Regions from separate parts of the Homo sapiens genome. Here all the other regions are reported to be linked to region 1. Evidence: microRNA targets listed by miRTarBase, many of them from high-throughput screens and not tested one by one. Region 1 holds a microRNA gene; each other region holds the end of a gene's coding sequence.
What was found. The annotated mature microRNA hsa-miR-5586-3p reads CAGAGUGACAAGCUGGUUAAAG and lies in region 1 at 1,954-1,975, opposite strand. An mRNA with a match to its seed (bases 2 to 7 or 8) in the 3' UTR can be bound and repressed. Matches are read on the target gene's strand: a 7mer-m8 pairs with bases 2 to 8, a 7mer-A1 pairs with bases 2 to 7 and ends in A, and an 8mer does both.

Region 2: the mRNA of IL20RB is a reported target of hsa-miR-5586-3p. Seed matches in the 3' UTR shown: 7mer-A1 at 3,247-3,253.
Region 3: the mRNA of RASSF9 is a reported target of hsa-miR-5586-3p. Seed matches in the 3' UTR shown: 7mer-m8 at 3,203-3,209.

What each region holds. Positions count from the first base shown.
Region 1 is chr14:59,645,009-59,649,257 of GRCh38, forward strand. It overlaps MIR5586 (microRNA 5586), which reads right to left and starts at 2,012; the gene lies at 1,954-2,012. All of the region lies in intron 3 of RTN1 (reticulon 1), which reads right to left.
Region 2 is chr3:137,009,631-137,013,879 of GRCh38, reverse strand. It overlaps IL20RB (interleukin 20 receptor subunit beta), which reads right to left. Exons shown (of 7, transcript NM_144717.4): 7 at 2,795-3,767. The coding sequence ends at 3,657. Among named protein-coding and RNA genes, the nearest start is that of IL20RB-AS1, 30 kb to the right of the region's middle. RefSeq lists a cis regulatory region at 1-102.
Region 3 is chr12:85,800,757-85,805,005 of GRCh38, reverse strand. It overlaps RASSF9 (Ras association domain family member 9), which reads left to right. Exons shown (of 2, transcript NM_005447.4): 2 at 1-4,249. The coding sequence ends at 304. Among named protein-coding and RNA genes, the nearest start is that of RASSF9, 34 kb to the left of the region's middle.

The DNA.
Region 1 (4,249 bases):
CATAGGGCTCTAGAGAGTCCAAGGCAACTAGGGACTGGGGCAGTTCCCCAGCACAGCAAAGCAGCTCTGTGAAGCTGCAGCTAGACTGCCTTTCCTTATGGGTCCTGGACCCTATTTCTCCTCACTGGGCAGAATCTCCTGACCAAGATTTACAACTACCCTCGCCAGTATGTTCAAGCTGGCAACAGATCCATACCTCCCTGGGATGGAGCTCCCAGAGGGAGTGACACACTGCCATCTTTGCTGTTTTGCAGCCTTGATTGTTGATACCTTCAGGTGCTGGAAAATCTGAGGTGATTAGAAACTGGAGCAGACCTCCTGCATATTCCAGCAGCCCAATGGAAAAGTGGCCAGACTTTTATATATGTTTGTTACATGTTTTCTATATATTACATGTTTTCTATATGTTACATGTTTTCTACATGTTACATGTTTTCTATATGTTTGTTACATGAGTCCCTGTTCCCGTATCTCCTCACTGGGCAGGTTCTCCCAGCCTGGGTCTCCAGCCTTTCCCCACTGGAGCTATTGAGCCAGTAGCAGTTCTTCAGCTCTCTGGGACAGAGCTCCCAGTGGGAGGGGTGGGTTGCCATCTTTGCTGTCTCACAGCCCTCACCCTTCTTGTCTCCAGGCTCTAGAGAGTCCATGGGGACCCGGCACTGGTCTGAACCCCCAGCACAGAGCATCCACCTAATGGAAAAGTGTCCATACTGTTCTCCACGCAGGTCCTGGTCCTCACTTCTCTTCACTGGGCAGAGTTACCAGGCCCAGGACTCCAGTGCAACCACTCTGCCCCTGCCTGACCGCTTCAATCAGAGGCAGCCCAGCAGTTAAGAGAACACCTAAATGCAGAGATGAGAAAGAACCAACACAAGAACTCTGACAAGTCAGATGACCAGAGTGTCTTATATCCTCCAAATGACTACACTAGTTCTTCAACAAGGATTCTTAACCAGGGTTGGCTGGAATAACAGAAAGAAAATTCAGAATACTGATAGGAACAAAGATCATTGAGGTTCCAGAGAATGGCAAAATCCAATCCGAGAAAACTAACAATCAAAATAAAATGATACCGAAGCTGACAGATAAAATAGCCAGTATAAAAGAACTCATCTGATAGAGCTGAAAAACAAACTGCAAGATTTTCACAATGCAGTCACAAGAATTAACAGCAAAATAGACCAAACTGAGGAAGAAATCTCAGAACTTGGAAGACTGGCTCTTTTAAACACGACAGTCATATACAGATAAAGAAAAAATAATGAAAAGGAACAAATAAAACCTCTGAGAAATATGGGATTATATAAAGAGGCCCAAACTATAAATCACTGGCATCCCTGAAAGGGATTGGGGGAAAGCAAACAACTTGGAAAACATATTTCAGGATATCTTCTGTGAAAACTTTCCCAACCTCACTACAGAGGCCAACAGTCAAATTCAGGAAATACAGAGAACCTCTGCAAGATTCTCCATAAGAATATCATCACCAAGATACACAATCAGACTTTCCAGGGTCAAAATGAAAGAAGGAATGTTAAAAGCAGCTAGAGAGAAAGGGAACCCCATCAGGCTAGCAGCAGACCTCTCAGCAGAAACCCTACAAGCCTGAAGAGATTGGGGGCCTATATTCAACATTCTCAATGAAGAAAATCTTCAACCAAGAATTTCATATCCAGCCAAACTAACCTTCCTCAGTGAAGAAGAAATAAGATCCTTTTCAGATAAGCAAATGCTGAGGGAGATCATTACCACCAGATCTGCTTTACAAGAGATCTTGAACGAAGCACTAAATATGGAAAGACCATTACCAGCCAATTAAAAAAAAACACAAGTACAGAGGCCAGTGACACTATAAAGCAACCACACAAACAAGCTGGCATAAAAAACAGATAACAATACAATGACAGAATCAAATCCACACATATCAATAATAATCTTGAAGGGGTCTTGCTTCTTTAACCAGCTTGTCACTCTGTGCCCCATTTAAAAAGCATATAGTAACAAGCTGGATAAAGAAGCAAGGCCCAATGGTATGCTGTCTTCAAGAGACCCATCTCACATGCAGTGACATCCATATGCTCAAAATAAAGGGATGGAGGAAAATCTACCAAGCAAATGGAAAACAGAAAAAAGCAGGGGTTGCAATCCCAATCTCAGACAAACAGACTTTAAACAAACAAAAATCAAAAAAGACAAGAGCGTTACATAATGGTAAAGGGTTCAATTCAACAAGAAAACCTAACTCTCCTAATACGTATGCACCCAACACAGGGACACCCAGATTCACAAAGCAAGTTCTCAAGAGACCTGCAAAGAGACTTAGACTCCAACACAATAATAGTGGGAGACTTCAACACTTACTGACAGAACTAGACAGATGATCAAGGCAGAAAATTAACAAGGATATTTCAGACCCAAATTCAACACTGGACCAAATGGATCTGATAGATCTCCACAGAACTCTCCACCCCAAAACAACAGACTATACATTCTTCTCATCACCACATGGCACATATTGTAAAGTCAACCACACAGTTGGTTATATAACAATTTTCAGCAAATGTAAAAGAACTGAAATCATACCAAATTCACTCTTGGATAGCAGTGAAAATCAAGACTACAAAAAACTCAAAACATGCAGTTACATGGAAATTAAACAACCTGCTCCTGAATGGCTTTTGGGTAAATAATGAAATTAAGGAAGAAATCAAGAAATTCTTTGAAACTAATGAGAACAAAGATACAACATACCAGAATCTCTGGGACACAGCTAAGGCAGTGTTAAGAGGGAAATTTATAGCACTAAATTCCAACTTAATATCAAAAGTTAGAATCATCTCAAATGTATAACCTAACCCTGCAACTAAAAGAACTAGAGAAGCAAGAGCAAACCAACTCCAGAGCTAGCAGAAGACAAGAAATAACCAAAATCAGGGCTGAATTGAAGGAGATCAAGACATTAAAAGCCATGAAAAAATAAGCAAATCCAAGAGTTGGTGTTTTGAAAAACATTAATAAGGTAGTCCACTACCTAGACTAATAAAGAAGAAAAGACAGATCCAAATAAACACAATCAGAAATGACAAATGGGATGTTACCATTGACCCCACAGAAATACAAATAACTATTACAGACTATTATGAACACCTCTATGCACACATGCACACAAATTAGAAAACCTAGAAGAGATAAATAAATTCCTGGACACATATACCTTCTCAAGACTGAACCAGGAAGAAATTGCTTCCCTGACCAGACCAATAATGAGCTTTGAAATTGAATCAGTAATAAATAGTCTATCAACCAAAAAGTCCAGGACCAGATGGATTCACAGCTGCATTCTGCCATTAAAATAAAGAAAGAAGAGCTGGTACCATTCCTACTGAAACTATTCCAACAAAATGAGAAGGGACTCCTCCCCAACTAATTCTGTGAGGCCAGCATCATCCTGAAACCAAAACCTGGCAGAGACACAACAAAGAAAACTTCAGCCCCATATCCTTGATGAACACTGAGGCAAAAATCCTCAACAAAATACTTGGAAACTGAATCCAGCAGCACATCAAGAAGTTAATCCACCATGATCAAGAAGGCTTTATCCCTGGGATGCAAGGTTGGTTCAATATATGCAAATCAACAAATGTGATTCATCACATAAACAGAACTAAAGACAAAAATCACATTATTAGTTCAATAGATGCAGAAAAACTTTTGATAAAATTCAACATTCATTTATGTTAAAAACTCTCAATAAACTTTGTATTGAAGGAACATACCTCAAAATAATAAGAGCCATCTATGACTAAACCACAGCCAACATCATACAGAATGGACAAAACCAGGAAGCATTCCCCCTGAAAACTGGCATAAGACGAGGATGCCCTCTCTCACCACCCCTATTCAACATAGTATTGGATGTCCTGGCCTTAGCACTCAGGCAAGAGAAAGAAATAAATGGCATTCAGGTAGTGTGATGCCACTAGCTTTGTTCTTTTTACTTATGACAAGGCTAGAGTAACCAAAACAGTATGGTACTGGTACCAAAACAGATATATAGACCAACGAAACAGAACAGAGGCCTCAGAAATAATGCCACACATTTACAACCATCTGATCTTTGACAAACCTGACAAAAACAAGCAATGGGGAAAGGATGCCCTATTTAATAAATGGTGTTGGGAAAACTGGCTAGCCATATGCAGAAAACTGAAACTGGACACCTTCCTTACACCTTATACAAAAGTTAACT
Region 2 (4,249 bases), not on the chromosome of region 1:
GAGGGTTGGCCCAGAGACTAGACCGGCAGAGTCTACAATTCTTCTGTGAAGGGAACTTAAAAGACTTTTCCACCGAACCCCTTGACAGGACAGGGAGAGCCAAGTGGGGAAAGACTGGACGTTAAGGGGCGGAGAGGAGCCTTTAGAGGAGAAAAAATGCCTTCTGACTGATGGATTTACATTTACTGGTATTCCTCATTGACACGATAAACGAGTCGATAAGCCCAACACGATTGAATAACAAGTAGAAATGCATTCTATTAGATTCATCTTCTCTGAGAATGCATTATGGTAGCTTCGCTCTTCTTGGGTGTCATGGACTGATGACTTTTCAAATATATGGTATCAATTGTGCCAGCCAATATTCTCCTTCTGGTGCTTATATTGTCCCAACTTTGGCCAGGAGGAGCCCTGTATAGATTGTTCCTTGTGTAATTTTGAATGACCCTTATTTAATGCTTTGCTTTCTGTCTCAAAAAGGTATAGGTGTTTTAAGATTACCTTGTACCTTTCAACTCCAAACTGACATGGCATCCATTACTGCTCCAAGAAACTTTGGCTCCTTTGGGAGAAAACTAACACTAGAAACCAAAATCTTAGCATTAAGATGCATTGTGGAGGTGACATTTCTCCTGGGCCATTTCAGTGGAAAAAAGTCAAAATATTTTTAATGTCATGTTTCATAAAGACATGACTTCATATTAATATGTTTGATTCAGTTCCAACAGTGCCCTGTTCTTAGTCAAATTTGGGATCCTAAAATTAGCCTTCCTTGTCACTAATCCTAAAATCTAGATTCTTATCAAAATATACAAAATATATATTATTTACTTGCTTTATCTGATAAGATAATAGTTGCAAAAATACACTATCAATACAAAGGGATAAATACTCAATAAAGTTTTTGTTTTAGACTACATACACCTACGGATTTGTTGCCAAATTACTTTGTTCTAGAATCTCTCATAATATCTCACACCATGTGGCTATGCAGGGACTTATCTGACAGGTAGTTCTGGGTCCATTGTTTCCATCCACTTTCATTTTGAAGAGGCTGCAACCTGCCCCCAGCCCCCGTTTTCTGCTCTACTTTTTCATTTTACCGTGACTTACAAACTCCCAATATACTAAATAATTCACTGAATAATAATACTGTTATTGTGTTATTATTTCTCCCTTACCCCATTGGAATGTAAGCCTCATGGAGCAGGGATTTTATTCACTGGACCCTGGCAGTTGCACCCTAAAGGCAGGACTAAGAAAGCTGGGCTTGATTCTGGGGGCTCAGGGGACTCTACTGGGTTGGCCTGCAAGAGACAGTCTTCAGTGAAACAGCAGAAGCCACTCTAGGCTGCTCCCAAATACTTATCCCCCCACAACACACACACACAAGTACTTCCCCCAATTCCCACAGGACTCAATGAGAAACTGTGAAAACAAAGCAAGCCAGTAGTGCTGAGCCTGAGCCCCTGGACTCAGTGACTGGGCATCTGGAGGGTTGGAGCTTCTAGAAAAAGAATGTGGCAGGAAGCTGTGCCTTATGATGAGAGTGACCTGGCTCCTGGTTTGCCCAGAGGAGTCCCGATTTACAGCTGTGGTCCTGCCGTAATTACTAATCACATTCCTTTTCACTCATGTAAGTGTCCAGATGTAGGGATAAATGCATTGGAGGGGCAGGGAGGAGGCCTGGGGACTTGGGATAGAAGTGCTCCAGGGGAGAGGGAACAGCCAGCTGTAGAGGAGGCAGCCCCTCCACCAATGGGGGCTGGCAGGTCGGGTGCATGGCTGGGGCTCCATAAATGCACATTCAGGGCAAGGGGAGACAACAGAAGAATCAAGAGAAATCTCTGTGTACCTATAGATGCCAAAAAATGGATGGGCACTGGGAATAGTTGTGAGAGACTCAAGCAGATGGAGGTCAGGGTCCTTTCTCAGTTCTGCGCCTGGGCTGTGACAGAAGGATAGTGCCCCCCACCACCCCACCATAAGGGGGCAGGAAGAGAGAGGAGGGAGGGTGATGACTGGAATAGTAATATGGTCTTTGTTTTTGCAAACTGAAAGTGTGTTTCTAGTTTAGGTCAAATATAAAATTAGCACACACCCTCTAACGAACAACACAGAGAAGCATACAAAATAACACAAAGGAAAAGAAGGAACGGGTCTTGAGCGATCTCATGCTCCTGGAGAGACCCCTCCAGGTGGTGAAGGGCTGTGGGCCTCTGGGGAAACACCCAGTTGATGCAGTTAGACTGTCCCACCACTGGGCTGGCTGGAAAGGGCCCAGGAAGTGAGGGTGAAGATAAACCAACTTGGAGGCTCCAGAGCTTCGAGGGGGTTAGAAAGCAAGGCGCAGGCCCTGCCCATCAATCCCTTCACCCCTCAAGAAGTTTCCTCCCATCATTCCTTCTCTGTGGTTGGCTCTTTTCTTCACCTGGTGGGGCAAAGGGGTGGGTAGAAGCTTCCAGAGGTAGGTCCTAAATGAGCAGACTAAGAGGGGCTGGGGATACCCTGAGTAAGCTGTCAAGGAAAAGAGGGTTCCCCAGGGATTTCCTGTGGGGTGGGGCCAACAGGAAAGGCTTAGGAGCACCTAACCAGGCGAAGCTTATGCCAGCTGCCTCAGTTGGGGTTCTCATGCAGCCAGAGGCTGCCCCCAACCAGGCAGCCCTGGGCTCTGGACTTCTGGGGCTGCTCCTCCGCTGCTCCCATCCCCACCCCCACCCCCACCCCGAGTCCTCTTGACCAAAGGTATCCTTTGGAGCCTCTCTGGACTTGAGGTTGAAAATGTAACTAGAACTTTAAAGACCGCTTTTGGCCAGGGTGGCCCTTTTTATTTGCTGAATTCTGTACTTTACCAACAGAAAAAAGGAGCACAACAAACATGCACATGTTACTGACTTCTGCATTCTCGTCGCATTGCACACATACATTTCACCTGCTGTCTGCAGTGTGCACACACTGTCAACACTTTACAGTAGTTCATGGATCCTCCGTGTTCATGCACATCCCATTTTCAGTGTGGCTGTGACCTTCCTCCAGGTCACCTACTGTAGAGCTCGCTAAGCCATTCCCCTCTGCACCGGCATTGGGCTTGAAGTGAACTCAACACCATTGCTCCCATGATTCCTTTTCTCTCAAGGATTATTCTGGGAAAGTGGGCTCTCCAAGCCACCCAGTGTGTAGAGTCCTTGATCATTCTCATCATACATTTATGTCCTGCTCTCCAGAAACACTGAATCAGTCAGACTGTAGAGTGTCACCAGTTTCCCTCTAGCCTTGCAAGTGCTGGGTGTATTTATGTGTACGTGTGTATATATAGAGAGAGACTCTGTGTGTGTGTGTTTAGCAGGTGTGTAGGTAATTCCCCCATTACAGATGAGAAAACTTAGGACCGAAGGGATGAAGTCACTTTTCCCAGGGTTGCTCAGCCAGCAAGTGGCAGCCCCCAGTCTAGAGGTCACATCCCCTAAGCCTCAGTCAGTGTTCTGTTAGACAAACCACCCTGCCTCTGATGGTTGCTTCTAGACTTGTAGACAACAGGCTCTTCCTACTTCTCTCATCCCTTGTCCGTGGCGGAAAACAGAAACACAACTTGTCCCCTCATGGTTTCCATGTCATGCAGACCAGGTTCTCGGCTTCACCTGGGCCCTTCCGCAAACCTATGAGATCCAGGCCCTGAGGAGTTCCTCAGGAGACATCACAGCCGTGGCACAGGCATCCACCTCCTCCCTTCTGCAGCTGATTAACTTCTGGGGTGAATTGGTTATTTTCTGAAAAATAATTTTCATTAATATTCATTAGAGGATAGCAGTAGTAGTAATACTAAAGAATATTATTACATTTTTAACTATTTGATTAATTAATTTCCAAGCAGCAAAAACAAAAACCAAAAAACAATTTCAAGCCCTAGATCAGGGGCTTCCAACATTTGCTAAGAATATCTCCCAGTTCACTACCCTACAGTTCCCTTGAAGCCCTGCTTGGTCAGAGTTCCTCATTCTAAGACCCTGCCCCACAAAAACCCAGAATGTAATTCTGGTTCTTAAAAAAAAAATTAAAGGCAGGTGCAATGGCTCACACCTGCCTTGGGAGGCTGAAACAGGCAGATCGCTTGAGCCCAGGACTTAGAGACCAGCCTGGGCAACATAGCAAGGCTCCCTCTCCACAAAAAATAAACTAGCCAGGCATGGTGGCACATGTCTGTGGTCCCAGCTACTCGTGAGGCTGAGGCAGGAGGATCAATTGAGCCTGG
Region 3 (4,249 bases), not on the chromosome of region 1:
TTTGAGTGGCATCCAGAAAGAGATTAAATACAGTGACTCATTGCTTCAGATGAAAGCAAAAGAATATGAACTCCTGGCCAAGGAATTCAATTCACTTCACATTAGCAACAAAGATGGGTGCCAGTTAAAGGAAAACAGAGCGAAGGAATCTGAGGTTCCCAGTAGCAATGGGGAGATTCCTCCCTTTACTCAAAGAGTATTTAGCAATTACACAAATGACACAGACTCGGACACTGGTATCAGTTCTAACCACAGTCAGGACTCCGAAACAACAGTAGGAGATGTGGTGCTGTTGTCAACATAGTTCCAATGGCTCCTTTCTGACCTGCTTTCATGTTTTAATGTTTGTTTAATTTAATAGGAAACCTCATTTTAAATATAACACTCAAAAAAATGTAAATCATATTGTAGTATTCAATAGTTAATAAAAACTCGAGAAATGTGTTGTTTCTGATGTGAAATTTCCAAAGGAACTTTAATTATTGCAAGTTCAAGCAATGAACTATTTATCACGAATGCAGCACAAATAGCTTGTCGTTGTAGAACACAGAAATAATTTGATGGGAATCATATGATAATCTTCCTTAGCGTCTGTGGAAAACGATTTACATAAACTTTAAAAGCAATCCTCAATATTAGACAGTCCAAATATTCAAACATGAAGAAGTAGAATTAAAATGTGCTGTAATATATATTTTTCCAACACTGTATAATTGGAATTTTTAAATCTGTAAAGTATATGGGAGCTACTGTGTTGTAACTGCATTAATTCAAAGTTTGGTTCTTTTAATTGATCCTTGATAATACAACGTATCATGTATATCACTTCCTGAACCCTTCTACCTGTTGAGGCCTATGAAACAGGCTGCTGTTGGGACATGTATAAATACTGGCAGGGAATCAGACACGTATAGGGTACAGATGAGGCAGGGCCAAGTGCTGCATACAAACAGCAATTTTTATAAAGAAGCCTCAATTTATTAAGAGCTATGTGTGGATGTTTGCTATCTGGCAATTCAGATCTCCTGACCAAACCCATGTTCATTCACTGAGTGAGGTATAGTGTGGGTTACAGAGAAAATCAGTCATAGTGTTATTTGTTTATGTCCTATCTACAAAAGTTGCAATGATGGAATTTGGAACCCTTCTGTGGATAAAATAGAATCTGCTATAATTATTAGCATTTTGTCTCTGAACCTACAGAGAGGAGACCACATGGACAAAAGACTTATTCTGCTATGCTATAACTCAGATTGTCTTATTTCTTCATCTAAAGTGCTTAAAAGAGACTTAGTTCCTAAAAAAGTACCAGCAAAATCCCCAACACACTAGTAAGAATTCAAGAAATTGAAGGGATTATTTAGGTCTTATCTTGACTGACAATCATTATTATGGCCTACTATGCTTGTGTTTTAATTAGAAATGTGCTTTCTTCTCTCTCCCTTCTTTGCTTACTTTCTTCTTATTTGCCTTCCTGTCTGCCTTACTTCCTCTCTTTTCCTGCCTTCATCTCTCCTTCTCCCGTCTTCTTTTTTTCCTTTGCTTCCTTCCTGCCAATGAACACATGATGCAATCATAATGAAATAATTATTTTTTATTGTACTGTTAACTGAGTACTGCTGCAGTTTATTTTTATTTAGCTGATATCTTTCCTGTGTGTCACTGCACATGTAAGTAGAAATATTATTTTACTTAGTTTTAATATGTGGACATTGGTTAAGGGTCCCAATCCTTCTCATTTCTTCTCTTTTATTCTTTTGCATACTTTTAGTGCAGGTTTTAACTCAGTTTTCTTATTGTTTTACTTTCAAAATTTGAAAAGTATTTAATTTTTTAAAGCAACTTTATTGTTAACTCATTTAAAAAAATATATTGCTCCTTAAATCTTCTTAACATATTTGTTCCTGCCTTCTCCTGTCTTTTAACTCATCTTTGGGAAGACATTTAGAATTTTCTGATTGTTTCAGTTTCGTGAGCATTTATACTATCATTTCTTGTACCAAAATAGATATTTTCAGGTCTTATTTCAAGTTGGCTGGTAAGAAAAATAGAAATTTCCATTCTATGGAAAAATACAGTGATAAAGAGTAATAATTCTGGCATCGGTTACATTTTTTTAAAAAAGATAAAATTGAATAGTCATCTGTGAAAGGAAAGTTCACCTGACTAAGAGTCCATAAAATTATTCAACAATATAAGCCACTGACATATTCATTGTTCACTAATGGGGATCAAATTCAGAAGATCATCGTAAATGATAAACCCATTGTATCATTTTCCTACAGTGGAAGTCATCTCTTTGAATTATTCTTATCTTTAGTGAGAAAATACTGAAAGAACATGCTTATCTATTTGACTAATTATCTGAATTCAAGAGGTTCTGATAAGAAGTAGGCCTGGAGAGATAATTTCATCTTAGAAACTTTGAATTAACTTCTGCTTTTATACAGTTAAGCACAGTAATGCATTTAAGGCTCAATTCTTCTACATTTTACAGTAAATAATGTTTGTAAGTCTCAGAAAGCAGTACCATTGCTTTTTAAATTCATTTCAGAATTTCCATTTGCTCATTAGTTATACAAATGTATTTGTGCGTTTGATCACTACAATCATTAAGTTTTAATCCTTCATCAGCTACCATGGTGAACCTCTTAATTTACAGTTACATGTTAATATATTAACACAAATAGAAGTACTGAAATACAATGCCCTCATGTCTGGATACTGAACTATTTGTTATTAAATTAAGTGAGAATTGGAATTATAAGTATAGAACTTGATAGAAAGTGTAATGTTATTATCTATAGAAATGTTAAAGTATAAATTCTTGAGTAATCTGACAGGTTAACTATGAAATTGCTATATGCAGCTAGAAGAAACAAACCAAAGCTGACTATTCTTAATTTCTGTAACAGGACCTAGATTCATCCTTGGTCATCCTTCCACTTGGAATTCTCCTTTTTATCCTTCTGCAATGCTCTGAAATCTTACCCTTTCCACAGTCTTTTTAATGTGCTAGCTCTTCTATGATATACGTTTGTTCCATTCAATTAGTTGGAATCTCATCTCTGAACCCAGAAATATTTTAGAGGTACTTCTCATAAGAAGCATTTTTATTCTGGCTTACGCTATATATATTTATGCACTTACCTAATTCCCCTCCTTCAATGAATTCTATTTTTTTTTTCCTTGAGACGGAGTCTCACTCTGTCGCCCAGGCTGGAGTGCAGTGGCGCGATCTTGGCTCACTGCAAGCTCCGCCTCCCGGCTTCACGCCATTTTCCTGCCTCAGCCTCCTGAGTAGCTGGGACTACAGGCGCCCGCCACCACGCCAGGCTAATTTTTTTGTATTTTTTTAGTAGAGACGGGGTTTCACCGTGTTAGCCAGGATGGTCTCGATGTCCTGACCTTGTGATCCACCCGTCTTGGCCTCCCAAAGTGCTGGGATTACAGGCGTGAGCCACCGTGCCCGACCAATGAATTCTTATTAAATTACTTTATCATCTGTCTTGTTAGCCTTACTCTTTCCTATTAACTTCTTTGCCCCCTGCTCCCTTTTTGAATTGAGTGGCTAAATTTTAGAGGTTTGTAGCTTTTGTGTGTGTGTGTGTGTGTTTTATAGATGGTAAATGATGCTTGTACATTTTGTACATGAATGAATACGTATTTTAGCAGACTTAAAACATTAACAGTAATTGACCTTATACATTTTGGGAAAGAAAAATTAAATCTTCATGCTACTACGATTTTTTTAAATGTGGCATCAATGTTTATTTTTAATAATAGTATTACTGACTTAATAAACCCCAAATGTCTCTTTAAGCTGATTTAATGGTTATATTATAGAATTTTTTATTTCATTGTGTGCTTATGAGAAAAAACATATTTTAGAGTTGGGTTTTAAATGGTAGACACAGAAAGTAACTTTAAAATATCCTAAACAAAATATCTATTTCATTTTTCTTCTTAAGTAAAATAACAACACCTCATTAGTGTGTAGAAGCTATTCTAATCCATTAAAATTTTATTTTTATATTTATTTAAATATCTACTGTACATGACAAAATATATTTCTGTGGCTGCCTTTTATAATTATTTTCCAAGTAGACATAATCTATTTAAAACATATTTTTCTAGTGACAAAGAAATACATTTTATCCTGATATATAGTTTTTAAATACTAGGCTATTTCTTTTCATACTGCCTGATTGGTTTAATAAACATGATGTGACAAATATTAAGTATATAT